7 linked regions of the Homo sapiens genome follow. The protein of the gene in region 6 purifies or fractionates together with the protein of the main gene of each other region. This does not show direct contact. Each region holds a gene or a part of one and is shown on either strand. Other genes may lie near its edges.

What was found.
Region 1: the proteins of NUDT9 (region 6) and MAN2A1 fractionate together in Homo sapiens (co-fractionation; one large-scale study listed by BioGRID). This does not show direct contact.
Region 2: the proteins of NUDT9 (region 6) and IMPA1 fractionate together in Homo sapiens (co-fractionation; one large-scale study listed by BioGRID). This does not show direct contact.
Region 3: the proteins of NUDT9 (region 6) and TRUB1 purify together in Homo sapiens (affinity purification with mass spectrometry; one large-scale study listed by BioGRID and IntAct). This does not show direct contact.
Region 4: the proteins of NUDT9 (region 6) and PHPT1 fractionate together in Homo sapiens (co-fractionation; one large-scale study listed by BioGRID). This does not show direct contact.
Region 5: the proteins of NUDT9 (region 6) and MAGEB10 purify together in Homo sapiens (affinity purification with mass spectrometry; one large-scale study listed by BioGRID and IntAct). This does not show direct contact.
Region 7: the proteins of NUDT9 (region 6) and IMPA2 fractionate together in Homo sapiens (co-fractionation; one large-scale study listed by BioGRID). This does not show direct contact.

What each region holds. Positions count from the first base shown.
Region 1 is NC_000005.10:109,787,094-109,791,132, forward strand, and holds part of MAN2A1 (alpha-mannosidase 2), read left to right. Parts: intron 1-1,840; coding exon 1,841-1,955; intron 1,956-2,366; coding exon 2,367-2,434; intron 2,435-4,039. UniProt on the Homo sapiens protein: Catalyzes the first committed step in the biosynthesis of complex N-glycans. It controls conversion of high mannose to complex N-glycans; the final hydrolytic step in the N-glycan maturation pathway.
Region 2 is NC_000008.11:81,683,313-81,688,119, forward strand, and holds the start of IMPA1 (inositol monophosphatase 1), read right to left. Parts: upstream 3,014-4,807; 5' UTR 2,940-3,013; intron 2,652-2,939; exon of another isoform or gene 2,604-2,651; coding exon of another isoform or gene 2,451-2,603; intron 1-2,450. UniProt on the Homo sapiens protein: Phosphatase involved in the dephosphorylation of myo-inositol monophosphates to generate myo-inositol. Is also able to dephosphorylate scyllo-inositol-phosphate, myo-inositol 1,4-diphosphate, scyllo-inositol-1,3-diphosphate and scyllo-inositol-1,4-diphosphate.
Region 3 is NC_000010.11:114,936,446-114,941,167, reverse strand, and holds the start of TRUB1 (pseudouridylate synthase TRUB1), read right to left. Parts: upstream 2,974-4,722; 5' UTR 2,915-2,973; coding exon 2,629-2,914; intron 1-2,628. UniProt on the Homo sapiens protein: Pseudouridine synthase that catalyzes pseudouridylation of mRNAs and tRNAs. Mediates pseudouridylation of mRNAs with the consensus sequence 5'-GUUCNANNC-3', harboring a stem-loop structure. Constitutes the major pseudouridine synthase acting on mRNAs.
Region 4 is NC_000009.12:136,847,419-136,851,524, reverse strand, and holds PHPT1 (14 kDa phosphohistidine phosphatase), read right to left. Parts: upstream 2,117-4,106; 5' UTR 2,095-2,116; coding exon 1,935-2,094; coding exon of another isoform or gene 1,929-1,934; intron 1,513-1,928; coding exon 1,388-1,512; exon of another isoform or gene 1,023-1,387; coding exon of another isoform or gene 965-1,022; intron 771-964; coding exon 678-770; 3' UTR 501-677; downstream 1-500. UniProt on the Homo sapiens protein: Exhibits phosphohistidine phosphatase activity.
Region 5 is NC_000023.11:27,817,990-27,820,751, forward strand, and holds part of MAGEB10 (melanoma-associated antigen B10), read left to right. Parts: intron 1-2,762.
Region 6 is NC_000004.12:87,432,172-87,436,210, forward strand, and holds part of NUDT9 (ADP-ribose pyrophosphatase, mitochondrial isoform a precursor), read left to right. Parts: intron 1-2,809; coding exon 2,810-3,049; intron 3,050-4,039.
Region 7 is NC_000018.10:12,001,688-12,005,726, forward strand, and holds part of IMPA2 (inositol monophosphatase 2), read left to right. Parts: intron 1-4,039. UniProt on the Homo sapiens protein: Phosphatase that can use myo-inositol monophosphates, myo-inositol 1,4-diphosphate, scyllo-inositol-1,4-diphosphate, glucose-1-phosphate, beta-glycerophosphate and 2'-AMP as substrates in vitro.

The sequences.
Region 1 (4,039 bases), on a different chromosome or scaffold from region 6:
GGGACAATGTTTGTAATAGTCAGCTTAAAAGTATTAATAGATAATGTGGCTTATGTAGAAGGGAAGAAGAAATGGTAATGAGGTCATTTAGAGAAATGTTTTAGAATTCCGCTAATTATTCCTAACTTGTAATTAAGGTAGGTGGGAGAAAACGGAACACAGGGTGAGCGTGAGGGTCCTAAAATGTAGACAAACTATATAGTGGCAGACATGCTAACATCTCCTTAATACAACAACCATAACAGCAAACTAAGAAACTGTGATTCCCAAGTGATTTTTCCCGAACCGTATTCCGTATTAATAGGATAAGTGTATGTTTGGAAATTAGAGGCCCTGAAAAAAATCCTGTATTAATGAAATGTTGAAACGTTTAGAATTTTGTTTTACCCAATGTTTCCCAAATGTACTGTGTTTCATTTTGTTTTGTTTTAAGCAAAGCAGCTCTATACATCCTGAGAAAACATTTGGGGAGTGATATACTGTAGTCTTTAGTACTCATCTTATGAGAAGGCTGCATGTGTGCCTTTAGGATGCAGACATTGATCCTGGCTTTCACTCAGTTTAATTAGGACTCTTTAATACATCTGGTTTTAGGTGGTGGAGAACATGACTTTCACTCTGCAGATTCAGGCTGCCTAATAAAGATAGCCCTGTAGACAATAGAAAGGAACTTAGATTGAGGGTCTTGCTGTCATAACTGAACCATATTCGTATGGTGTTTTAGTATGGTGAAAACACTTAATGCTGTCTAGGAAAACATTTGAATATGTTGGGAAGTTTAGTTAGATTATGGCATGAACTCAAATCCATAAGATTTTAGCATTAAAATTATAGATTTGCCATGTAAATGTATTTAATTAATAACATTGATCATGATCACTTACATCTCTGAAGGAAATATTAATGCTCTGCAAAAAAGAAGTTAACTTCTTTTATAGGTTTTCTTGTTGTTGTTGCATGACAACAAAAATGTCTTCAAGGCATAGATCCAAAGTTGCTTTCTGTATTGGAAAAAATAATATAATTGAAAACGTGATTAGCGAGGAGTTTCTACGTACTTCTCCAATATGAATTTGCCTATGGATGCCTGGTCTGTAGAGCCTTCAAGAAACGTAACTGAATTAGGAAAAAAAAAAAAAAATCTTCAAGCAAGTTCTTTTTCCATGAGTAATGCTTCAGCAGTAGCGGATGTATTTCAGAATTGGTCTGGAATCAGTAGACTTTTGATTCCTTAGACATAAAAATACAATTTGAATATAGTTAGTAATTTCAGTGACCAAAAAATTTAACAGGGATAAAGACAATTTCATTATTCACATCTGTCAAAAACTCTTGTTCTGGTTCTCTTGAACAAGAACATGAAACTAAATTAAACAAAACATCTATTTTAATTCTTGGGGTATGACTTGTATACGAATTGAATTTTCTTGTGAGCTGAATTATCTCATGTTTTTATTCATTGTTAAAACCCTTGTTAGAGCTTTTTCTAAAGTAGCAAATCATTGTTTTTTTGATAGAATGCTTCAAAGTTATTGGGGTGATCCTACTGGATATTATTATTTGGTGCGATATTCATAGAAAGTATACATAGTTTGATTATGTTTATGTGTTTCAGGTGTGTCCAGAAAGCTTTCGGTTTTAAATGGATTCTTGTCAGTTATATCTTCTGATGTACTTAGTTCTAGGGGAAAAAAGAGCAGGTTTGTCATAGATTCATTATAGGTTTCACTTTGAATACAAGATGAAGATACTGGTGGTTTGGCTATTAGTAATGAAACTGAAAATATTGTATGCAGATTTTTAAATTGTTTCTCAGACTAATAAAATTTTTGATTTACAGACTTTTTCATTCGTTAATGGTTTTGGAGAAGATAATTGGAAATTCTGCATTTCTTCTTATTTTGAAGGACAAACTCACATACGACTCTTACTCTCCTGATACCTTCCTGGAGATGGTTAGTAATTTCATCTATGGTCATCATAAAAATGTGTAATTCCATTGTTCTTGCATTAGCAAAGAGGATGAGAAGCTTAATGAAAAAAGACATTGAAATATAATTTTTTGTACATTATTTGAAAGAATTTTTATCACTTAATATAAATTACCTGTATGTTCATCTTTTCTATAAATATTTCAAAGTATGTGAAATATGTAGGGTTTTAGAATACTATTAAGATGTTAGTAAGGCAACTGGGGCATTATAACTAGTTGTTTTGCTTGGCTTTAATTAGAAACCCCTTGATATTTAACTTTTTATAAGTCCTTAATCTGTTCCTCCTAAACTTGAATTTGAATGGTCTTCTGGTTTCAGGATGAGTCCATGGAGTGTTAAGTAAAATTAAAAAATTACTGTTCATTTTTATAGGATTTGAAACAAAAATCACAAGATTCTCTGCCACAAAAAAATATAATAAGGCTGAGTGCGGAGCCAAGGTAAATTCATAATTTCTTACAAATGTTTACCACTTTCTGGCTTAATAGTTTTTGGTTTTATGGTTCTGGTTTTTAGTTAGCGTATATTTTGAGGCAATCAATTTATTAATTAAAAAACTCCTAAAAAATGGATTTTCTTTCATGACTGTGTTATGCTCAGTGCCAATAGCTAACACAGTGCTTAGTATATTGACTGCTGAATAAATTATTATAACAATATTTCTCACAGATATAAGGTATAGCATGATAAATATATAGCTTATAAAACATTTTCTTATCTCTATAAAATTTTCAGATTATATCCTTTCTTGATTAACCTTTCATTTAACTACCTTGTTTTCATTAATCCCTGATCCTATTTTTATATGAAAGAAGAAACTTTATTATTATTGGAAGATCAAGGTTTCTACTGTAAATTGTTTATTAGATAACTGTCATTTTGCTGGTGAAACAGCCTTGTTTTAGCACTATTGATTTATGCTAAAGTAAATGGGAAGGGTGTTCAGTGACCTTAAACCAGGGCATTTAATTGGTGGCTACCTAATAATTATAAAGAAATGCATTATGTTTTATTGGTATTTCTTTAAACAGCAAGGTATCTGTTTTTAATAACCAAATATTTGTTGGTCATTTCCTAGTTGACCCAGGCACACAGTGGTTATTTTTTGTAATATAACCTTTAACTGTCAGAATCAAGATATTTAGTACCTCCTCTTGCCAATTATAGGATAAAACAATAATTTCAAAGAGTAATTCATTATTTCAACTAAATATATTTTATTAAAATTATTTAAAAATAAATGGAATGAATGTAAAAAGAATTTATAGTTGCTAGTAAAGTTGAGACTTTTTGTTAAGCATAGACTAAAGTCTTAGTTGTCTAAATTTCTTTAGTAAGTAGAGACATAAGGTGTATACAGCTTATTCCTTAGAACGAGATAATAAGTTTTTTTATTTTAGTAATACTAATGTTCTCTGTAACACGGCAGAAGCCTTAGGAGCTTTCAGATTGCCAGGTCATAGTTAGGATGAAAGGATAATGACACTGAAAGAAATATTTCTTATAAAATTACAAAATGTTTTCTTTGTCTTAAAATAAGTTATGTTTTGATGCATTTGGGGTTATATGCCTGTTCCTTAAATATTGTGTTCCTAGTAAACTCTGGCATTAGTAAATCTATTTGGCTTTAGGCATAGTTCTCTCATCTATTAACTTTTCTTTCTTTTTATATTTTGGTGGAGGAAGATCTTTGTTTTTGCTGGTTATAAGAATAATATATGCTGATATAAGTGATTTGTGCCCCATCTCTGGGTGCTCTTATGCTGGGTGCAGTGAGGCAGGGCTGGAACCATAATAGGTCAGAAGAAAAGATGTTCCCTTTAGTTTATCTCCTTCCTTCACTGTCTTTGCCTTAGCAAACAATAATTGATAATTTTGCCTTTCTAATGCCAGAAGAAGAAAGTTAGGAAATGTAGTATATTAATGAAAGAGAAAAATATTTTTAAGCTTTCATATTGAGGAGTTTTAACTACAGGTAAACATAAATGGAATTTCGGGGGCTATTAGTAAAATGATTGCTTTTTGATATTTCTTTTTAAATAGTT
Region 2 (4,807 bases), on a different chromosome or scaffold from region 6:
GAAAGTGGGTGTTGGTAGAGGGTCAGCAGATTTACATTCAGGATGCAGTAGTGGGAGGATACCTGATGATTGGCTGAAACCTGGGAGGGAAGTTTTGCTGGTAGAGAAGTTAAGAGAGTCAGAGATACCTGTTTTGAGGGAATCTAACAGATTGGCTACAGAGTACCAGGGACAGGAAGAGTTCAGATTTCCTCTGAATCTGGATGTCCAGATTTCCCACTCTGGCAACTGTATGGATAACCGTCACAGTCTACTGAAACAGGGAGCAACAAAAAAAGAGTCAAGTTTGGGATATAGGTAGGAGTTTGAGAGATCAGGAGTTTAATTAGCGGAAGATGAGAGGCCTCTGTAAAATCAAAAGATGTCAGTTAGGCAGCTGAATCATGGATCCTGAGCTCACAGGAGAGGTATGGCCTCCATGTAGAAACATGTAAGTTACTTGAGTAGACAGCAACTGAGGTCCTGAGTCTGGATAATCACTGGATAGGCATGATTGACAACTGTGTAGAAATGTGATCCCACAAAATCAGTATGATCCAAATGGAACAGACTGACTGTGGAAACCCAGCAAGGACTGTCCATTCGGATTCATCTTGGCCTCTCTGTCCAGCATTCCTTTCTCCTGTATATGGGGCAAGACCCCTTGTGAAATGGAGGTCTTACGATCTACAGTCAGACAAGGTAGGTCAGAGAATTTCTTCATGGCTAGTTCTAAGACAGAAAGGTGGGCCAAGATTCCTGTCAAGGGCTATGGGAGTTATGAGCCAGGAATGGTGGATGCAAACTATATATATATATATATACACACACACACACATACACACATACACACACACACACACATACACACACATACACATATATAATACAGTAAATATACTTTATATACTATATATTTAGATACTATATATAGTATATATACCATACATAAGTATATTTAGATACTATATATAGTATACCATACATAAGTATATTTAGATACTATATATAGTATATATACCATACATAAGTATATTTAGATACTATATATAGTATATATACCATACATAAGTATATTTAGATACTATATATAGTATATATACCATACATATTTAGATACTATATATAGTATACTATACATAAGTATATTTAGATACTATATATAGTATACTACACACAGTATCTTTAGATACTACAGTATACTACACATAAGTATCTTTAGATACTATGTGTAGTATATATACTACACATAAGTATCTTTAGATACTAATGTGTAGTATATATACTACACATAAGTATCTTTAGATATATATATCTAGTATATATATACTACACATAAGTATATATACTACACATAAGTATATATACTACACATAAGTATATTTAGATACTATGTGGAGTATAAATACTACACATAAGTATATTTAGATACTATGTGGAGTATATATACTACACATAAGTATATTTAGATACTATGTGGAGTATATATACTACACATAAGTATATTTAGATACTATGTGGAGTATATATACTATACATAGTATCTATGTGTAGTATATATACTATACATAAGTATATTTAGATACTATGTATAGTATATATACTATACATAAGTATATTTAGATACTATGTATAGTATATATACTATACATAAGTATATTTAGATACTATGTATAGTATATATACTATACATAAGTATATTTAGATACTATATATACTATACGTAAGTATATTTAGATACTATATATAGTATATATACTATACATAAGTATATTTAGATATATATACTATAAATAAGTATATTTAGATACTATATATAGTATACATTAAGTATATTTAGATACTATATATAGTATATATACTATACATAAGTATATTTAGATACTATATATACTATACATAAGTATATTTAGATACTATATATACTATACATAAGTATATTTAGATACTATATATACTATACATAAGTATAGATACTATATATAGTATATATAGTATATATACTATACATAGTATATTTATGTACTATACATATAGTATATTTATATACTATATGTAAGTATATATGTAAGTATATTTATGTACTATATATAAGTATATATACCTAAGTATATTTAGGTACTATATATAAGTATGTATACCTAAGTATATTTCTGTACTATATATAAGTATATATACCTAAGTATATTTCTGTACTATATATAAGTATATATACGTAAGTATATTTCTGTACTATATATAAGTATATATACGTAAGTATATTTATGTACTATATATAAGTATACAGAAGTATATTTATGTACTATATATAAGTATATATACTATACATAAGTATATTTATGTACTATATATAAAGTATATAAGTACATTTTATATATATTTTTATATATAGTTATATATAATATATGAATAGTTATATATATATAAATCACAGTACATTTATTGATGGGCAGGGTCCGTAGTTTACTCACTTTCATTTTCCCAAAGCCATAAACACCTGAACTGTTTCCTGCTGTTTCTGTCCTGGTCACAGCCTTCCAGCGTAGGAGCCAGGCCACCTTCCTTTTTGCCACCTGTCCCAGCACCGCGACTGCGGGCAGCACAGGACCTGGGCGCTGCCCCATCACTTAGAGTGACTACCTGGGCCTGGGGATGCACCAAGTTTCTAGGAGCTTTTCGGAGTTGGGGACATAAAAAGGGGCAATTATTCCACAGAAGCCGCCACAGAGGTTAAGTGAGGTCGCGTGAGCGAACCGCTACTCCAATGCCGGAACTGTTCCCGGTCGCCCAGGGCAGCTCCGGATAACGCAGCAGGCAGGGGTCACCCAGAGGCTGCCTCCACCCTAGGCGCCGACCGCGCACGGCGCTCGCGCCCGCTCCTGAGGAGGGAAGGGGCCTCCCTGGAAACCCACAGCGCCCGCTGAACCCGGAGGGTGCGGTGAGGAAAATAACGGTCTCACCTTGAGTCGGAGGACGTCCGGCTAGCTCTGTGAACGGTGTTACCGCACTCGTCTCTTCCGGAGGTAGAGGGGCTACTCGCAACAGGAAGTTCCGCCCTTAAAAACTCCATTCCTGAGGGGGCGTGGTTGCTTTGCTGGGCCCCGCCCCGAGCTGCGCCCTGCGAGCCTCTGCCAGGCCGGGCCGGGTCCTGACCCGCGCTGGAGCATGGGATACTGCCTCTTCATTCTAGCTTCTGGTTCTTTTCTCCTGCTTGTCTTTTCATCTCTCAGTTTTTAAACATTACTTCTCTCTTTACTTTGCCTTTTTCTTCTTTCGTCCTCCATTCATTCACGGTTTCCCATTTAGCTTGCTTTCTTCTTTCTCCCATTTATTCTATAGTACTATTTTGACAAAACCCAGATTGCAGATATGATTCCGATTATGCAGCTTTTAGGTGCTAACCTAAAGCTGGTAAACCTATACTAGATTAAAAAAAAATAAACTGATAACCAGAACCAACTGCCCAATTCTTGATAATTTACTTACATACTATTTATTGAGGACTTACTATGCTTCAAGCAATTGTGTGGGGTTTTATTGTTTTGTTTTTTTGAGACGGAATTTCACTTTTGTCGCCCGGGCTGAAGTGCAATGGCGCGATCTCGGCTCACTGCAACGTCCGCCTCTTGGATTCAAGCGATTCTCATGCCTCAGCCTCCTGAGTAGCTGGGATTACAGACGCCTGCCACAACGCCCGGCTAATTTTTGTATCTTGTAGAGACGGGGTTTCACCATGTTGCTCAGGCTGGTCTCAAACTCCTGGACTCAAGTGATCCGCCTACCTCGGCCTCCCAAAGATTACAGGCATGAGCCACCACGCCTGGCCGAAATGTGTTTTTATATGCATTATTTTCCTTAAAGTTTTAACAGTTTCTTGAAAAAGGTATGATTAGCTTTGTCAGACAGATGAGGAAACTGAGGCTCAGAGTAGTTAAGTGATTTGTCCTCAGGTCACACAGCAAGAGCAGAGAGTGAAACACACTGAGTTCAAAGTTTTGGGGTTCAGAAAATGATACCCCACAATGAAGGCCTCAGAAGCAGCCTTAGAAGGAAAAATTTTCCTCTGACTCCTTTTGGTCTCCTGTCTCTGGTCCCACATTCTTCCCCAGACTAGTCATAGAAGCTAGAATTCCTCTTTCCCAAATCAGGTCCCAGAAATCAGGACCCCTTTTTTATAAAGCCAGCCATAAAACATAAAAATACTACTCTAGGCCAGGCAAGGTGGCTCACGCCTGTAATCCCACCACTTTGGGAGGCCAAGGCAGGCGGATCACGAGGTCAGGAGATCGAGACCGTCCTGGCTAACACGGTGAAGCCCCGTTTCTATTAAAAACACAAAAAAATTAGCCGGGTGTGGTGGCTGGCACCTGCAGTCCCAGCTACTCGGGAGGCTGAGGCAGGAGAATGGCATGAACCTGGGAGGTGGAGCTTCCAGTGAGTGGAGATCGCGCCACTGCACTCCAGCCTGGGCGACAGAGGGAGCCTCCGTCTCAAAAAAAAAATATATATATATAGAGAGAGAGATATAGATAGATAGATAGATAGATAGATAGATAGATAGATAGATAGATAGATAGATATTACTCTAGCATTCTCCCTGTGTTTCTATGTAAAATCTGACCACGAAGAAATTATATGACTCACCCTGTCTGAGTTTAGGTCATAAGACCCCCATTCCAAAGAGGGTCCTATGGAGAGAGGCCAAGAAGAATCTAAGCAGACAGGTCTTACTGGATTTCCCCAGTCTAATAGCATTAGGTTATACCCTCTTTGTCCAACCATATTCTACACAGCTGTCCATATGCTGTTGAAACTAAGCATAAAATGG
Region 3 (4,722 bases), on a different chromosome or scaffold from region 6:
ATACCTGCCCCCAAGCCCATCAAACCTTCCTTATCAACACTGACACTGAGCAGAAAGAAAATAAAGCAAAGAAAACGAAACGAGTGGACAGAGAAGGGAGGAGGGAAAACAAAGCAACAGTGGAAATGCAGAAGCCAGATTAAATGGCCAAAAGGATATGCTGGGTGGCTCGGCCTCCCAACAAAATTACCACTCTACTGAGTCAGAACCATGGTCTCTGGAACACCCTGGCGTCATTCCCTAATTATGACATCACCATACTTAGAAGGGTATGGTTGTCTGCTTTGACATAAACTTCTAAGGCCAGACCTCAGTTTCAAACCCTTGATCTGTCACTTGCAATCCATCATGGATCTCTCACTCATAAATTAACAGAAACCTTTTGGGGAACTCTTTACATTTTCAACTTGACACCCCTTGGAGTAAGAAGGCCCCATAAATATACTATCTTCCCTTTGTGCCCAAATATACCTCCTTCTAACTTGCAGACGTACTGCCTCTACTATATAAAGTGGGGAATTTGGTTCACCCCACTGAACTAAGTATTCGTGGATTTTTATTATTTTCTAGCTATAAAATTCTGGTACACTTAGGGCTTTGAAGGATCCCAACAGACAAACAGTAGAGATTGTAGCATAATAGGAATCAATGCAAAGAAAGACAAGGAATGGTATTAGAGGACACAACCACTGATCATGGTTGTCAAACATGGCATTAGAATGTAGGTATCTTTAAGAACCTTCCCAAGGCCGGGAGTGGTGGCTCATGCCTGTAATCCCAGCATTTTGGGAGGCTGAGGCGGGCAGATCACCTGAGGTCGGGAGTTCGAGCCCAGCCTGACCAACATGGAGAAACCCCGTCTCTACCAAAAATACAAAATTAGCTGGGCATGGTGGTGCATGCCTGTAATCCCAGCTACTTGGGAGGCTGAGGCAGGAGAATCACTTGAACCCAGGAGGGGAAGGTTGCAGTGAGCCGAGATCTTGCCATTGCACTCCAGCCTGGGCAACAACAGCGAAACTCCATCTCAAAAACAAAAACAAAAACAAAAACTTCCCAAGCAATTCTGACAGCCAATTACAATGACATTTGGAAAGCCCTAGCCTAACTAACATAAATACAAAATAGGCCAATCACAAGCAATATAGAAATCGAGGATAATGAGAATGTCTCTAGCTAAAGGTTCTAGCCTAGCAAGAGCCTTGAAACATTTTAACCAAGATTCAACAAGAAACTTCAGTTCTTAGAGGCAGATTAGCCAGAAGGCCAGAATATGGCTTTGTCAGAAACTTGTCTGAAAGAATGGTAATCATTACCTTAAGGATAAAAAAAAAAAAAAAAGAAAAGAAACCCAGAGTTTAGCTAACAAATCAGGAAAGCAGCAGTTCTATGAAGGAAAACTAAAAAACTATGATGATACCACAATACATATCCTTGATGCAATTCCTCACTTTGACGTCCTCTGTATGACCCATACTTTCAGGCAACAAAGCAAAACTTTAATAAAAGAATAAGTAGTCGTGATACTGGAATTAAACATCTGCAGGAGTGTACCTATTTGCCCATAAACACTTAAATCTGTACTGTCAGTTATAATTCCCATCAGAATAATTTGTTTTTGCATTTTTTTAAAGTGTAAAGTTTTCCATGGGACACTAAACAATGTAAGAAAGTCCCTGTTACTGGTTTAATGGCGAGACAGAATACGGCCAAACTCTGGAGGGCCTTGAATAACCTAACTAACTAGTTTTACCACCACAAGGTGCAGAAATTACTAGGCTATCAGCTCAGTTAAGGTAAGAGAGTTATCTTTCATCTTCAAGTCTCTATAGGCTAGCACAGACCTGGCTTATTGTATATGTCCAATGAACTTAAGGATCCTGGATGCTTTATGTGTGAAATCATCCGAGCTGATTAACGGGGTGATTCTCTAGGCTTTTCTACTATTTTCCCAGTGTACGTGAATAAACGAATCAATAAAATGAACACTCTCAGCTTAGTGGCCAAGTTATATTTAGTGTTCCTCAAATGTGGTCCATAAACTACTTACACTGGAATCACCTGGAGCAACTATTTAGAATTGCAGTTTCCTAAAAATACCCCGAACTCTCCGAATCACAATCTCGGACAGGGCAGGGATTAGGAATCTGTATTTGTACAAGAGACTCTAAGTAATTGTTAGGCCCATTAAAATGTGAAAACGACTATATTAAGTCTTGGTTAACGAAGTATATCTGCATTTCCAATACATTTTGAGGAATGCAACTTTAGGGGTGCAGAACCAGTACTTCCTTTTGGGGTTCATCCACATGAACCCAACAAAAGCCTCCTGAGGGATCGATCAGATTACAGAAAACAGGTCTGCACGCCCAAGGGCAGGGTTTTATTGTGTAAGTACGGGATTTTTTTCCTCCCGTTGAGAACTACAACTGCCAAGTAGGCTACAAGAGTTCGTGCCAGGGCAAGTCCAAGCCCGAGATGCCCGAGATTCCTGTCCAGAGCTAATTCAATGGTCAGTCTCCCTTTCCCCTCCTTTTGTCTCTTGAATCACGAGCGTCGCAAAAAGCCTAATGTGCTTCCCCTCTCGCAGCGACCGCCTCAGCCTGGTCCCCACCCGGGCTGCAGTACCTGCCAGCAGCTTCTCCTTCAACCGATTCAGCAGCTCGGCTGAAGTGGGCCCTTTGGGCTTGTGCACGGCGAACACGCCGCTCAAGGACAGCAGCTTGGTAGCCAAAGCGGCCTTGGAGACCCTGGCTTCGGATCCGGTCCTGGCCGCGGCCGCAACCACCGCGGCTGCAGCCCTTGCTGACGGGGTCGCAGCCATTGCTGCGACCGTTCCTGCAGTTTCAAGGACAGGGGATGTGTCTGTTTTCAAAGACGGCGAAGACACCACCGCCGCCTCAGAAGCGGCCATACTTTTGTAGCCCAGACCTGTTTCATCGTGGAGGTGCACGCTGATGATGCAACAAGAGTGCGCCTGACAGGACCCTCTTCCTCATACCGCGAAGCTGCGCAGAACGGAGAGGTCGCACGGACTTGTGGGAATTGTAGTCCATGGCCTTCCCATATAGACCAAGAGCTTGCTGTGCCCTTGGACTTTAAATAGAAAATTTTAAATGTTGACTTTTCCTGAGGCTTGTGAAGATCCATGGCTTCCTGGGCTCACTGCTTCATTGATTGTATTGTGCTCTTACATTCAGGTTCAGAATTAGAAGACATCCAAATGTGAGCTCTATTAGAGCAAGGAACTTATGTACCACGTTAACTGAGACATTCCCAAATGCCTCACATGTTGTAGGCACTTAAATAAATATTTGAAAACGTATAAATAAGTATGAATTCTTCAAATTCCCCGAAGAAACCAAGCCAATGGTAAATCACTTGTGCTTATTTTGATGCTCTTCATGCACTCCTGTTCACCCTCCCCAAACCCCCACTGACCCCACTACAATTTTTAATAATTCTGATTTTGAATATCAGCTCTTCTGTGGGTTGAATTCCTTAGTACACTTTGTTTAGATATCAAAAGGTATTCTTGCAATTCATAAACTTTAAACCACTTCCCATTTGAGACCTTCTCCCTAAAAGTTATTCACTCCCTAACAAGATTGAGGAATATTGTTTTGATTCCAGCACAAGGCAGAGTGGAGAAAAATTACTTCTGCACCAGAAACATTAAATGCTATCATAACTATTGTGAGACAGATAAAGTTTGCCCTCATTGTTTTTTAGGTTTCTTTACAACCACTCTTTGTCCTCATCATACTCTTGGACTTTAATATCTAGTATTTTAGTGATGCCCCTTAGCTGCTCACAATCACCAGTTATGGGGTCCCATTTGAACTTGCACCCATTCGTGCAACAGACACATGGCAGAACAATTTATTAAAAGGAAAAAAAAATCTTTGAGGGAGTTTTTTCAGGGTGGAAAGCTGAAACTCCTAGAAGGAAGTCACTTACTCTTGTGGTCTATTATAAAAGCCTAAGCTAACTGAAAAGATTGGCATATCACAGGATTAGTGGACACCTGGCCCTGCTTCAAGATGTTAATTTTTCCACAAAGATGTTGTGACTTCAGAAGGGATGACTGCACCCAAAGGAGCATGGTGTCCATTAGCCTCAGGAAAGAGTTCTCTATTCTTGTGCCATGGAAGCAGAGAGCCAGGGACTTGCAGGGAAGGTTGCAAGGCTTGATCAATGATGACTTGGATGACTCCAAGGCACTTGGAGATTAGAGGCCTTTTCCCAATTGTCCGGACATCAGCAAGCCTCCCTATTTCTCTTGTGGCTCTGGGGGTGAGGGATGCAGAGGGAGAACAGAACTAGGGGTAACATATGATGCTTATATTTGAATTTTCCATCAGCCCAGTGTAGGACCAGAGTTAATCTGATTTAAAGAAAATGAAGAAATGTATATTTCTTGCATGTTTGATTTCTGGGATGCTAGGACACAACAAAATTAATGCTACTCTGCTATTATATCGGCATTCTTGGGATCAGAAGCACCAAGCTTTGTTTTTCTAAGGTAATCAACATCTCCCACATTGGGCAGGCCTTGAATTCACAGGTTTTTTTTGCTCCAATACATGTATGAGTTTGGGCTCTTTGGTCAACAGAAAACTGATTCATACCAGCTTGGGGGCACAGGGGGAGAAGATTTATCAGAAATACACTGACACACTATTCAGAACCTAGAAAGTTCTCTGTCTCTAGCTGCACATC
Region 4 (4,106 bases), on a different chromosome or scaffold from region 6:
GTCCTGCCCACAGCCCTGCCGGGTGCAAGAGGGACCTGGGAGGGGCCTCCAGAGTCAACGTGAGCCTGTGGGGTAGATGCAGCTGTGCGACCTGACCCTGGATACTGGTAGGCCCCATGGGGCTGGTCATGGAAGGAGCCTGCAGGTCACGGAAGGAGCCTCAGGGCAGACAGGACACTGGGGAGCCCTGGGATGGGCTCATAGGAGGGAGCACTGGTGGGCGCCCCAGGTCTTGGCCAGCCCGAGGGACCAGGCCCTGACTCCTCTCGCAAGGGCTTGCCAGACCTCCTCCAAGATGCCCTGGAGGACGATGGCCGTGGGAAGAGCAGTCAGGCCATCAGCGGGCCCCTTTATCAGACCCCAAAGGGCTGAGTGTGCACCGCCACTCCCTGGGGCCACTCCTGTGTTCCCCCACCCACCTGCTTTAGTTAGGGTCTGGGGGCCCCCGGAGGTGGTGACGCAGGGTGCAGGAAGCCAAGGACAGAGTTCAGAAGCCGGCAGGTGTGGCAACACGTTTAATTCTGTGGCCAGGCTAGCCTGTCTCCAAGGCCTGGTGGACAGCACGTCACCAGAGGCTGCCGCAGGAGCAGGCAGGGCCAGCCCTGCAAGAGGAGTGCAGGCAAAGGCGGGGGCTCTGAAGTGGCTGCTGGAGGCAGCAGGCCCCGGGCTGGGAGTGCTCAGTAGCCGTCGTTAGCCCAGGTGACCTCGTAGTCGGGGTACTTGGCTTTGATTTTCTCAGTTGAAATGGCGTGCTGGGCAGGACCATAGGCCTGGAGAAGAGAAGACGCCTGCTGGCACTACCTGGACCCTTCAACCCGATACCCGGCTCTGGGCATCCAGCCACCAGCCACACCAGAAGCGAGTGTGGGAAAGGGATAGGCAGTGCCTGGGGATGCCAAACCCACCATCCCGACCGCCCTTGGGGGCTCCCCTGGGGAGAGGCGACCTCCACAGGCAAGCAAACCTTGATGGTGGATCCTGGGGCCTGAGGCGCCCAGAGGGACGCACGTGGGTCTCATCTGCTGGTGGTTTTTGTGAAGAGCACAGGTGGGGACTCTGAGCTCCACCCAGGTACTGACTGCCTCTGGGGGCCCAGGGCCCAAAGTGCTGGAGGACAGCTAGAGCCCAGCAAGGCCTCCCAAGGCAGGGAGAGGAGACAGCCGGCCATGTCTGGGGGTGTCCGTCCCACCCCTCAGGTCTGGCGTGTGCTCCATGGGGGAATGCAGGAACACAATGGGCCCTGGAGGGAGGGCTCTGCCGCCGACCCTGGGAGAACCCCAGGAAGCCTGCGTGCTCAGCTGGGGCCACGGGTCAGGGCAGCAGGCTCAGGTGGGCCTCGAAGCTGGTACTGGGGCCTCCGGCAGGGCGGGACGGGGCTGCGGCTCACCATGGAATAGCCGTACACGTGAATCTTCTTGTCCTGACTCTGGTGGGAGATGCGCCCGCCGCCCAGACACTCACAGTCGCAGCCTTGCTTCTGCATGTCGCCCGACACTTTGTCGTAGATGTCCGCTGGGATGGGAGGGCGGCCTCAGGACGTGCCCTGGCCGCCCTTGGAGGCCGCGGGAGGAACTCCCAGCCGAAGGGGTCTGAAATCCCAGCTCTGAACAGCCCCTTCCCCAGGAGAGACGAAGCCCCTTGAGGCTGGGACAGGGATGAATGAGCGAAGGAGGGTGGAACCGGGGAGGGCGCGGGAACTGGGAGACTGCTGGGGAGGGTGTCAGGCCGTGTCACGCCCTTCCCGCCCAGGACCTCAGCCTGGGTCAAACCTAGCAGGGGCAGGACTCGGAGCAGAGCGCAGTCCGCTACGGCCCGCAGCCCCGCCCCCGCCCCGCCAGCCCCGCCCCTGCCTCGTCAGCCCCGTCTCCGTCCCGCCAGCCCCGCCCCCGCCTCGCCAGGCGTGCCCCTGGCATGCCCGCAGGTCCCGCCCTCACCATGGTACTCAGCCCACTTGTAGCCGCGCACGATCTCCTTGCTCTCTGCAGCCGGAGCCCCGGAGCGGGGAGCCGAGTGGACTCGGATCAGCACATACTTGAAGACGCCGTCGGAGTCGATGTCCACATCAGGAATGAGAGCGAGGTCCGCCACCGCCATGTTCCTCCTCCCGGAGTCCCCTCCTCCCACCCGACCCGGGGGCCGCTTGTACTGCGGGAGGCGGGCTCTGCGAGAGCGACGACCAATCCCGTCGGGGAATGCTTCCCAAGGCCCAGCGCCTCAGCCAATTGTACCGCCGACCGAGGCACGTGCTGACCAATCGCAATCCAGTTCCTTGCCGCCTTGCGGCTCCGCCAGCCCCGCTTAAAGGAAACGTGGAATCGGGAATGGGTGGTGATGAAATCCAGCCAACGGAGAAGTTCCTCTCCAGCGGGGTCCGGTGGCACCCTTGGAACGGGGCAGTTAGGCGGCCCGCGAGGCTGGGGCAACGAGGGAGGCCTGAGGGACTTGCCAGCCCTGACCTCCTGTCCCGCACGTAGTCCGAAGACCACCCTCCCCGTGGCCCCCACCGCCCAAAGGCCTCCCTCTCTCCCCCTCCCACCGCCCGAAGGCCTCCCCCCTCCCCGCTCTCCACCGCCCGAAGGCCTCGCTCTCCACCCCCTCCACCGCCCGAAGGACTCCCTCTCTTCCCCGTCCACCGCCCGAAGGCCTCTCCCTTTCTCCTCTCCACCGACCGAAGGCTTCCGTCCCCAACCCCGCTACCGGTACAAGGAGGCAACGGCAGCCGCTACATTCAAGTTCTATTTTACTTGGTTCGAAAGCTCTTGCCCCCTGGAAATTATTCCGGTCCAGGGGCGTTCCCGGCCGGCCCTCAGGGGTGGGGCCGAATGCAGAGGCCCTGGGGTAGGGGGCGCGGGGCGCGGCGGCGGGTGGGCAAGCGGGACGCCTGGCCGGTGCAGACGCGCGGGGACGAGATGGGCGTGCCGGGTGCGAAAGCAGGAGCGGAGGCGGGGGTGCCCAATTTCTCTCACTTGGTGCCCCCTCCCCTGGCTCCGAAGTAGGGCTGGGGACTCCAGGAGGGCCCTTGCGTTTGGCCTCCACCCCTCTCCCGCATACCCCACCCTCCAGAGAGCTCTGGGCGCGGACCAGGGTGCACTTGGGGGACAGGTGGAGGCCGGGCCGCCGGGCTTGCGCCTCCACGCCCGCAGTACGGCGTGCGGCCAGAGCGGGTGTGCGGGGACCTCTCGGGACAGGTCAAGCCCCCTCGGGTGGGCTTCCACGCTTACCAACTAGCTCTCTCCCTCACCTGCTCGCACCACGCTTTGCCCTCCAGGCTCCCACCTGGGAACGCCCCGTCCCTTGGTCCTTCCTCTCCTAGCCAGGTGTCAGCTCTGGCCAGGCCCAGGTGCTCTGCTTCCCCTGTTCAGGTCCCCTGCCCCTTCGGCTGGGAGACTTGCATATCGGCCTGAAGACCTCCCTGCGGTTTTTCCCAGCTCCTGCAGGGCCCAGACTGCAGCGGCTGGAGGCGAAGGGACGGCAGGGCGCGTGGCGTGGTTAGTGTGCTGGCTCCGACCAGCGGGAACGCACTGCGCACCGTCCGCCCTGCCCACCGCCTCGGCGGGACGCGCTCGCGCACACGGACGCACAGAGGTCGACCAGGGTGTTCTCCAGCGAGGAGGCAACACAGCCGCGGGAGGCGGGGCGGGGCGTGTTTAAAGTGACAGACTGGGCTTTGGTTACGTCGGGCTTCTGGACGAGGGGAAACCGGAGTCGGGGAGGCTCCAGCGAGAGCCCCGCGGACCGACGGGGACCGGATCTCTACGGGTGGGGTCTGTGCAGTAGTGACCCCTCCGAGTGAAGGCAGAGCTCGGCGGTCCTCAGGCCCACCCCGCCTCCCAGCGGGGAGCACCGAGGGCGAGGACCGACTTCTTCTGGGGATCCTCGAGGGCGAGCTGGGAGAGGGAGGAGGCCCGGAGGAGGGAGAGGGGTTGCTGGGGGTGGGAAGGCGAAGGGCCTGTGAGGAACACTACGGGGACGAAGGGCCGGGGGGTGGGGGCCTGGGCGGAGCTGGAGGCCGAACTGAGCGGAGCTTGGAAGGCTGGGGAATTAGAGGCGGGGCCTAGAAGAAGTCGGGGTGGGGCCCTGGCGGGGCTCGGGGGCGGCCCTGGGTG
Region 5 (2,762 bases), on a different chromosome or scaffold from region 6:
CGTGGGGTAGCAATGGGACAAGAAGGAGTAAAGATGAGGAAACTGGTGGTGTCTTGGACAACTTTTCTGAATAGCCTTGGCAATCTCTGAATCATCATTACCAGCATGAAGTTGTAGGCTGAGCTGTCCAGAGGCGTGCTCTGCTAGAGTCTTCCCTTCCCACTTCTCAGGCAGAGTGTGGCTTGCTACCCTGCGTCAATTAATACCAGTTATGATATTAATTGATCCTGGGAGAGCTACATCTCTTCACTACTCTGGTCGTTCAGGGCACCCTTTCCAGTGTAGCAGGGTTGAGAGCTGTCTTGATGCCTATAAGAAAGAATGTATGTGGCCCTTGTATATGTGGCCCCCCTTGAGTATGTGGCCCTCCTACCACTGAGGTTGAAGCTGTGCAAATAGACATGATTGGTGATTAATGACAGTTAAAACAGGGCAAATAGTACCAATGAGTAGTGGCATAGTGTAGATTCAAGGAGGGGGGAATTGGAAAAGGGATTTCCTGAGACGAACTACCTCACTGACTCTGTAACTAAAAGGCTGAGCGTGCATATGCCTTTAAACAAGGATCCAGATGTTATCCCCAACTCCGAATACTTCCTAACATCACTGACTTCTTTGCAGAACAGAGGGCTGATTTTTTGTTGCTGTGTCTGGTGGCCTTTGTTGCCACCAAACACTGTAGTAGGGTGCTGGTTTTCAAGGCAAGTATTTCCAGGGTAGATGGAGAACCATTGCAGATGCTGCAGCTCCTTATTGAATGGACTGCAGGTAACAAGTATAGGTGGAGTCCAAATCTCTATCTTCTTTACTGTTATAATCCTGACTTGATTCGAATCAACTGAAAATTTTTATAAAGGGGGATTCTGCACTAGCCATTTGCAAAGTTATTACATGATCTGTAGTAAAATTTACATCATTTCTCACTGTGAGGTAGGGGCATTGGACCGGGTGTCATTCTCAGATCCACAGAGGGAGGAGTCCCAGTCTCTAAAAGGAATAAAAATGAAGACCCTGATGAAGTTTTGAAAGAGTCACCCACTCCATAACAGACTGCTCAGCACAGAGACCACCCCTGCTGTTAACATTTCTAAGCCAATGCCTCGATGTTAGGCCCAGAAGCCTCCTCACTTCACCCTCTGTAGTCCAGGGATATGGGACTGTGGGGTGAAGTGGTTGGGGACGAAGGCTTTGTTTTAAAGCTGAATGACTCAGATCAGGAGGAGGAGTCGTCCCAGGCCCCCCAGAGTCAATGAAAGACCCCTATGCAACTTCTGTCAGAATTCCCTACTCCCACAAAACACAAGCCACCCCCTTACTTCTAAGAGCTGCACCCCTGCTCTCAGCACTGGGTCCCATATGGGGGTGGCTAGAATTGGCTTCCCCAACTTCTGACTCTAACTTCTCAGAAGAATGAAGGCATTAGTCTGAGCAGGGTAGCCTCAAATCAGCAGAAAAGAGAGTTCCAGAGATTTCCAGGTCCTGTCAGGAGTTAAGTTAAAGACCTTAACTGAGATCTGAGGACTCTTTATACCAGAAGAGAGAAGGACCAACAGAATCCCAGCCCTGTGTAAGCCCTGGGAGACCCTGGACAGGGATCCTCTGATGTAGTGCCCTTTGAATTCCCAGGATCCTGGGAGGTGACAGCATTGAACCATGCTTTGGCATCAGACCAGTAGAGAGCAGGGTTCCAGACCTTCCAGCAGTGATGGTGAAGACCCTAATATTTGAGGCAACTATCCACACCAGATCAGAAGGGCTCCACAGCATCCAGGCTTCTGCTTTCAGGCCTGAGAAGCCCATGAATGGAGTGGCCAGATATAAAAGTCTCTGAGTTCCACCTCTGGATTTTTAGGGAAGTTAAAAAACTGGTGCCAGAGGGAGGTGTTAAATCAGCAGAGGGAGGAGTTCCAGGCCCTGCTAGGAGGTAAGATAAAGACCCTTTGTGAGGTGTAAGGGTAATAGCCATGCCCTTGCTGTTAGTGGTAGCCAACCTTGGGCAAAAAAAAACCTCTTATATAGCACCCTCTGAATTCCCTCTTTGGAAATTCAAGGAGAGGACAGCATTGGACCAAGGTTACAGCCTCAGGCCAGCAGATAAGAGTCCCAGGCCCTAACAGAAGTAAAGGTGAGGAAACTGAGTGAGATCAGAAGGAACCACCCACCACAAAAGAGAGGGGTTCATAACAGAGTCTGCCCCTGCTCTCAGCCCAGGGAGGTCCCAGGTTGGAGTGGCTATTGTGACACTTTCTGAATTCCATTACTGCTTTCTCAAAGAAGTGAAGAGGTTTAGGTTGTCAGAGGAGCTATTTTGAGGCCTTGCCAAAAGGGAATACAAAGATCTTGAGTGAAGTTTGAGGGGGACTTCCACTCCAAAAGACGGGCCCCATGGATTCATGACAGGTCCAGGACAGGGCCTGATGAAGCACCCTCTGAATTCTGGTGAGAACTCAGGGAGGGGAGGGCGTTGGACCAGAGTGTCAGCCTCTGGTCAGCAGAGAAGGAGTCCCAAGCCCTAAGAAGAGTAAAAAGAATCCTGAGTTCTGAGGGAGCCATCCACCCCAGATCAAAAGGGGACAGCACAGAGTCCCATCTATGCTGTCAACCCTGAGGGACTGTGGGGTAGATATGTTAGGCTGAGGTCTCTCTCACTTTCTCCTTTTGTAACTCAGAGATGTGAGGGCCTTGCTCTGAGGGGATAGGTCTCAGGCCATCACAGGGTGAAGTCCCAGGGCCTAGCAGAAGCCAAGGTGAAAACCCTGAGT
Region 6 (4,039 bases):
GATTTCAGGTTTTGGAATATTCACATACACATAATGAGATGTCTTGGAGATGGGACTCAAGTCTAAACACAAAATTCATTTATGTTTTATATATACTTTAAACAGGTAGCCTGGAGATACTTTTATACAGTATTTTAAACTTGTGCCTGAAACAGTTTTGGTTGTGACCCATCACATGAAGCCAGGTGTGGAATTTTCTATTTGTGGCATCATATCAGCACTCAAAAAATTTCTGATTTTGGATTTTTGGATTAGGGATGCTCAACCAGTTTTACTTCTTCCTTTCCAATGTGGATACCTTTTCCTTTTTTTTTCTTTCCTAATTGTTCTGGCTAGAACTTCTATTTCTTTCCTAATTGCTCTGGCTGAACTTCCAGTATTATATTGATTAAAGTGAACATCCTTGTCTTGTTCCTGATCTTAGAGGAAAAACTTCCAGTCTTTCACCTTCACACCATTAGCTGTGGGCTTTTCATATATGGCCTTTATTATGTTGAGGTAATTTCCTTCTATTCCTAGTTTGTTGAATATTCTTAAATCGTGAAAGGGTGCTGAATTTTGTTAGATAATTTTTCTGCATCAATCAAGAAGATTGTGTTTTTTTTTTTTATTTTGTTAATGTGATACATTATGTTGATTGATTTTCATTATATAGAACCATCATTGGATTCCAAGAATGTCTCCCTTGGTCATGGCATATAATCCTTTTCATGTGCTGTTGAATTCTGTTTGTTATTATTTTGTTGAGGATTTTCACATCAGTATTAATCAAAGATAATGGTTTGTAGTTTTTTTATAGTGTCTTTGTCAAGCTTTAGTATCAGGATAATGCTGGCCTCAGAGTGAGTTTGGAAGTGTTTACTTCCTCTTCACGTTTTTGGAAGAGTTGAGGGAATATTGGTGTTGATTCTTCTTTAAATGTTTGGTAGAATTTATCAGTAAAGCCATCTGGTCCTGGGTTTTTCTTTGTTGGGAGTAAATAGATACTTTAAAAAAATTCACCTTTTAAAATTATTTATACAACCCCATCCAAACTTTACTACCTATCCTGCAATGTTTATTTTTTCCTTTATGGTCATCAGCCCATCCAAGATCATTGATTGCTTCTAATTGTCATGTCTTTTTAGTCTTAATCTATCTGGAAGAGTTCCTGCACCTTTCTCTATCTTTCATGACCTTACCAATTTAGAGAGTACACACCTTTATTCTGTAAGATGTCTCTTAACCTGGGTCTGTCTTGTGTTTCCTAATGTTCAGATTCATGTCATATATTTTTGGGAGAAATACCTCAAATGACTGTTGCATGCTTCTCACTGTATGAGATCAGGAGGCACATGCTGTTGACTTAGTCCACAACCTTGGTCAAGTGGATATTTGCCCCGTCAATCATTTGTCTTAAGAAGGGCAAATTGACTGGTATTGTGAGAGCAGGGGAAAGGAGCTATCATAATTTTACCATGTCCTCAGAATCTCCTTTCCCACTTGAGATGTCCTAATTTAAGGTCATCAAGAATTCGTATTTTAAGAATAATTAGAAGTCATTTAACTTTTTAGGCAAGATGAGATATGAAAAATTTTTGTATATGCTGTGTGGTTAGGGTGAAGGTTAGTTGGTTTTTCTTTTGCATATGCTATCCAGTTATTTCATGCCTGTATATTTTATTTAAATTTTGCTCTAAAGGTTACAATTTGTATATTTACCACAGTCTACCTTCAAATTATATTACATTAGTTCATTTTCAGTGTAAAAAATTTTTCAATAATTTCTATTTTCCTGTTTTTCCTTTGAACCATTTTTGCCATACGTTTTATGTGTATGTTAGACTATAGATGATTTTTAAAAAATATATTCCTTTACGTAGACTTTAAACAGTTTTCTTTTATATGTATATATATTTTTTGAGATGGAGTCTCGCTCTGTCGCCCAGGCTGGAGTGCAGTGCCACAATCTCGGCTCACTGCAACCTCCGCCTCCTGGGTTCAAGCAATTCTCCTGCCCCAGCCTCCCGAGTAGCTGGGATTCACCACACCTGGCTAATTTTTGTATCTTTTAGTAGAGACAGGGTTTCACCATGTTGAGCAGGCTGGTCTCGAACTCCTGACCTCAAGTGATCTGCCCTCCTTAGCCTCCCAAAGTGCTGGGATTACAGATATGAGCCACCACACCTGGCCTACACTTGTTTTTATGGTTTGAGTTTTCATAACAAACTTCCCCTTCCACAACAGATAACACACAAGTAAGTTTGTGTCCTTTTTTTTTTTTTTTTGTCTAAAATAAATTCAGTGAGTGGGTTCCAGCTAATAAGATTTAGCTATATGTTAAAAAAATGTATATTTGAAAATAATCTCTCATAGATGTTGGACCTTTAGACTAATATGCATCATATTTGAATTTTCTGATTCTTAAAGGTTTTTGAAATTGGAAAGTATGTTTTTGGGTCTTTGAATTAGGTTCTTTTTTTTTTTGCTTTTTTTTTGAGATGGAGTTTTCACTCCTGTTGCCCAGGTTGGAGTGCAATGGCGCGATGTCTCACTGCAACCTCTGCCTTCTGGGTTCAAGTGATTCTCTTGCCTCAGCCTCCCAAGTAGCTGGGATTACAGGCATATGCCACTAATTTTGTATTTTTAGTAGAGACGGCATTTCACCATGTTGGTCAGGCTGGTCTTGAACCCCTAACCTCAGGTGATCCACCTACCTCGGCCTCACAAAGTGCTGGGATTACAGGCGTAAGCCACTGCACCCGGCCTAGGTTCTTTAATTAATATATTTTTGGTATTTATGTAAAATGTTTTTCTTTTTCTCCCCCAGAAACTCGTTTTCATCTTCTTGGTTTCATCTTAATACCAACGTCATGTCTGGTTCTAATGGTTCCAAAGAAAATTCTCACAATAAGGCTCGGACGTCTCCTTACCCAGGTTCAAAAGTTGAACGAAGCCAGGTTCCTAATGAGAAAGTGGGCTGGCTTGTTGAGTGGCAAGACTATAAGCCTGTGGAATACACTGCAGTCTCTGTCTTGGCTGGACCCAGGTGGGCAGATCCTCAGATCAGGTGAGCAAATAAGACAGCGTTAGCTGGGAATAAGACTTTTAGAGAAGGTAATGGTTTTATTTGTAAAGTATCTTTTTGACACCTGAAAATAATTTCAATCTATGCTTAGCTGTGTTATAACTCAGTTTCCACATTTGCTTGAATTCTTGCCAAAGATAAACAGTTCATATTTGTTTATTCTTTTGGGGGTTTTATGAGGATACTTCCAAATAGTTAAATCTGTTTTGATTTGAAATAACAAATAGCATCAGCTATGTGTTATGAAATAACAGCTGGTACTGTTATATTTGTTTTGAAATAACAGCTGATGGTATTTGTTTTCATGTGTTCTATTTGGGTTATCAATAGAATATCCTTTGTGGTTATTTTCCAACATAGCTAGACTTGTGAAAATATTTTTCGGAAAATTCTCCAGGTTACTAAGAACAGGATGATGATAAACCAGTGTGAAAAAATAGAAAAGGGTTGGATAAAGGGGAGTGAGAGGGGGAGAATGAGAGAGAAGGGGCTCTCACTAAATTCATAGAAGTGCCGCATTGATTAACATTTTATGTTTATGTTTCTTTTTTATTTTCCAGCTTTATTGATATATGATTGACAAGTAACTATATATATTTAAGGTGTACAATGTGATATTTTGACATACATATACATTGTGAAGTGATTACAACAATCAAGCCATTTAAAATAATCTTACATGGTTACCTTTTTTGTGTGTGTAGTGAGAAGAGTTGAGATCCACTCTCAGCGAGTTTCAAGTATACAATACTGTATTATTACTATTTTTGAGACTGGTGCTCTCTCTCTCTGTCACCCAGGCTGGAGTACAGTGATGTGATCACAGCTTGCTCCAACCTTGAACTCCTGGGCTCAGGTGATTCTCCTGCCTCAGCCACCTGAGTAGCTAGGACTATGGGCATGTTCCACCATACTTGGCTAATTTTATTTTATTTTTAAGTAGAGATGGGGTCTCACTGTATTGTCCAGGCT
Region 7 (4,039 bases), on a different chromosome or scaffold from region 6:
GCCAGACTCCAGAGTTCCTTGGGAAAACCATGATGCAGAGCAGGGGATTATAGGTAGGGTGAGACAGGCTTACCTGGGAGCGTGCCCGGGCTGAACACCAGCCTCCATCTCTGAAAAGGCCCCCTGGTAGGGTCAGACCCACACACCTGTCCAGGAATCAGTGATTGAAATCTGGGGTTCCCAAGCTCTAGCCCACAAGTCAGTGGACTGTGGCTGCACCACGGACAGCCCCAGTCTGTGTGTCACCCCCATCTTCCCTAGCTCTGAGGGTGAATGTGTGGACACGGTGAAAGCAGCTGTTCTCTTCTCTGCTCAGTGTGCCTCAAAAATTGACATCAAATGCAGTTGTTTTTCAACATATTTATGTGAAGTGAGTTTTTTTTGCCAATGACTAAGATTAAAAAGAAAGTAAATTTTGGGGATTTAATTGTATTTTAGATCATAGAAAAGTTGATAAATTTGTGATGAGAGAAAATTGTATACATATTGTAAAATAGGACATTGTGATTTTTTTCTGCTTTCTAAGTATTTAAATATATCCCTTAAACAATATATTTAATTTGAAGTTGCCTCTCATCCTCCTTTAGGAAAGACTTTTATTCTGAGCTTTTCTCTTTCCTTGATTTTAGTCTTTCATGAAATGATATTAAAAATAGACTTAATAACATTTTTTTAAAAACCTGATACAGGCTCCCCAGTTTTATTATTTTATTTCACTCATCCATGAAATCCAAAGGTTTGCTCCTTGACCTGGAAGACAGGTGTAGACTGAATCAAAGAATGATAAGGTTTAAACTTCCTTCTGGTGGGGTGCAGTGGCTCATGTCTGTAATACTAGCACTTCAGGAGCCCAAGGTCAGAGGATTGCTTGAGCCCAGGAGTTTGAGACCAGCCTGGGCAACATGGTGAATCCCCATCTCTACAAAAAAATTAAAAAATCAGCTGGGCATGCTGGTGCACGCTTATGCTCCCAGCTACTTGGAAGGCTGAGGTGAGAGGCTCGCTTGAGTCCTGGAGGTCGAGTTGTGATGCTGCCACTGCAGTCTAGCCTGGGTGACAGAGCAAGACCTTGTCTCAAAAAAAAAAAAAAAAAATGTAGATTAAAAGGAACCCTTGCAGACTGTTGGTGAGAATGTAAATTGATGCAGCCGCTATGAAAAACCCCACTGCACTGCAGCCTGGGCAACAGAGTGAGACCCTGCCTCAAAACAAAAAAATAAATAGGCTGGGCGCGGTGGTTTACACCTGTAATCCCTGCACTTTGGGAGGCCGAGGCGGGTGGATCACCTGAGGTCAGGAGTTCGAGACCAGCCTGGCCAACATGGTGAAACCCCCATCTCTACTAAAAATACAAAAAATTAGCTGGGCATGGTAGTGCGTGCCTGTAATCCCAGCTACTCAGGAGGCTGAGGCAGGAGAATCGCTTGAACCTGGGAGGTGGAGGTTACAGTGAGCTGAGATCACGCCACTGCACTCCAGCCTGGGGAACAAGAGCAAAACTCTGTCTCAAAAAATAAAAAATAAATAAATAAAATTGCTTCTGTCACTGGCCCTAGCAGCTTTGGCAAATCTCACCACTTAGGGCCTCGAACTCCTCACCTGTGAATGAGGGACCTGACCATGGTCATCCCTGAAGTCCCAGCATTTAACTCGTAACATGACAAAAAGCAAACCAGGGCTGGGCACAGAGGCTCACACCTGTAATCCCAGCACTTTCAGAGGCCGAGGTGGGTGGATAGCTTGAGATCAGGAGTTCGAGACCAGCTTGGCCAATATGATGAAACCCCGTCTCTACTAAAAATAGGAAAACAAATTAGCTGGGCCATGGTGGCGCATGCCTGTAGTCCCAGCTACTTGGAAGGTTGAGACAGGAGAATCGCTTGAACCTGGGAAGTGGAGGTTGCAGTGAGCTGAGATTGCACCATTGCACTCCAGCCTGGGCATCTCAGTGAGACTCCATCTTAAAAAAAAAAAAAAGAAAAGGAAAAAAAAAAAAAAAGGCAGCATGGTAAGGCCGGGTTTTTATAGATTGGGTCTTTGGAGTGTGCTGTTGGCCTTGGCCACATAGCTGTCTCCTGCCATGCCCTGGCTTTGTGGGGCGCCTAAACCTGTTTTCAGATGATGATTTTGAGTGAGATACAAGTGTAGCTACTTGGAAAAGATTCAGTAGCATCCCTGAGCTATAGTGATAGAAACCCCGTCCTTGTCCCTTCTGTGGAGCAGCCTGTTGGAGCTTCTCTGGGTTGGCCTAGGCCCAGAGATGAGGTCAGCAGCTCAAGGGTCTAGTGTTTTTAGCTGTCTTCCCAGCCCTGCTCCAGAGCCCCCATGTAACCTGCTGCCCTGCAGTGCCCAGCACAGAGCAGTGTCTGTTGAATGCGTGAGTCAAGCAAAACATCAAACAGAATCCTTGACATGGGAAAAACATGCTCCCAGCCACCACCAGCTGAACATTGACATCCAGCTGCTTTCCCACTGGGCAGTGGCTTGTGAAGATGGGGACAGAGTATCATAAATCATCTCCTTTGTGGACAGCAGGGATGATCCTGACCTTCTTGTCACAGACTAAACAGACTAAGTAGCCAGAAGAAAAAAAAAGAAAGAAAGAAAAAAGGGGCTTAAAGGCACTCAGCTGTCAAAATTATAAGGAGGGTTTGTTAAAACTATTTTTTAAAAAAGAAAAGTGGTTAAGTTATGCAGTAGGATATAATATTCTATAATAACTTATTACCAAACTTTTAGCCTTAATCCAGTTGCTATTTTCCTCTTGTCTATTGGATAGACGTATGGAATGTTCTTTTTTTCCCTAAATTTAGTCATGTGCATTTTTTTTCCTATTTATATTGTGGGTTTTTTTTTTTTTTGAGATGGAGTCTTGCTCTGTAGCCCAGACTGGAGTGCAGTGGTGCAATCTCTGCTCACTGCAACCTCCGCCTCCCGGGTTCAAGCGATTCTCCTGCCTTCCAAGTATCTGGGATTACAGGCATGCACCACTATGTCTGGGTAATTTTCATATTTTTAGTAGAGACGGGGTTTCACCATGTTGGCCAGTCTGGTCTTGAACTCCTGACCTCAAGTGATCCACCCACCTCAGCCTCCCAAAGTGCTGGGATTACAGGCGTGAGCCACCGTGCCCTGCCTATATTGTGGATTCTATGTAGATGTTCCAGTGGCTTTTAGGAAGGTCTTTATGATTTCACACATCTGTCTACAGTCATGTCTGCAGAGCAGACTCTCCCCACTCCCTCTGCAGACAGCTGTAAAACATTGTCTTTCATCTCACAGGTATTAGCTTCCTACATGAGTAAAATCAGGTTTAAGTGAATAAAAATTGTGCATCTCTTCCCATGTACCAGGGAAGTATTTTTGGTGCCTCCAAAGACCGAGCACGGTTCACGCCTCTGCTGGCCTTCACACCGCTGCAGCCACACAGTGCAGAAGCCTGCTCCCTGCTGCCCACAAGCATGAGGCAGGTGGGAAGGGGGATGCTCGTGCCACCTTGTAGGCGGGCAGGCAGTCTCATGGGCAGAGGTGTACACAAGGTGGGTGATGAGGAAGACAGCTCTAGGGTATGAATGATCAGCTGCTGAAAAACATCCAGTGCTCAGTGTGGGTACTTAGAGTTATTCTCATAAAAAATGTGAGGCAGAGTTAGTCAGGTGTGGTGATGCATGCCTGTGGTCCCAGCTACTCAGGAGGCTGAGGCAGGAGGATTGCTTGAGCCCAGTGGTTTGTGGCTTCAGTGAGCCATGATTGTGCCACTGCACTCCAGCCTGGCTGACAAAGCGAGACCATGTCTCCAAGAAAAAAAAAAAAAATTTCTAAAAGTACTTGCTGGGTTACACTAAATGAAACCTAAAAAACAAATAGATAAATAATAAAGGTTACACACAGCAGAAGCTTTGTTAACAAATTAACTTATATTAATAGTTGCTGCTGGGAAAACAAGCTGCTTGGTGACTTCCCTAAAGGGTGTCCCACGCATCTGGCGAATGAACAGACAGAGCTCCTGCTCCCGAGTGTCCTGGGAGGCACGTGGGCA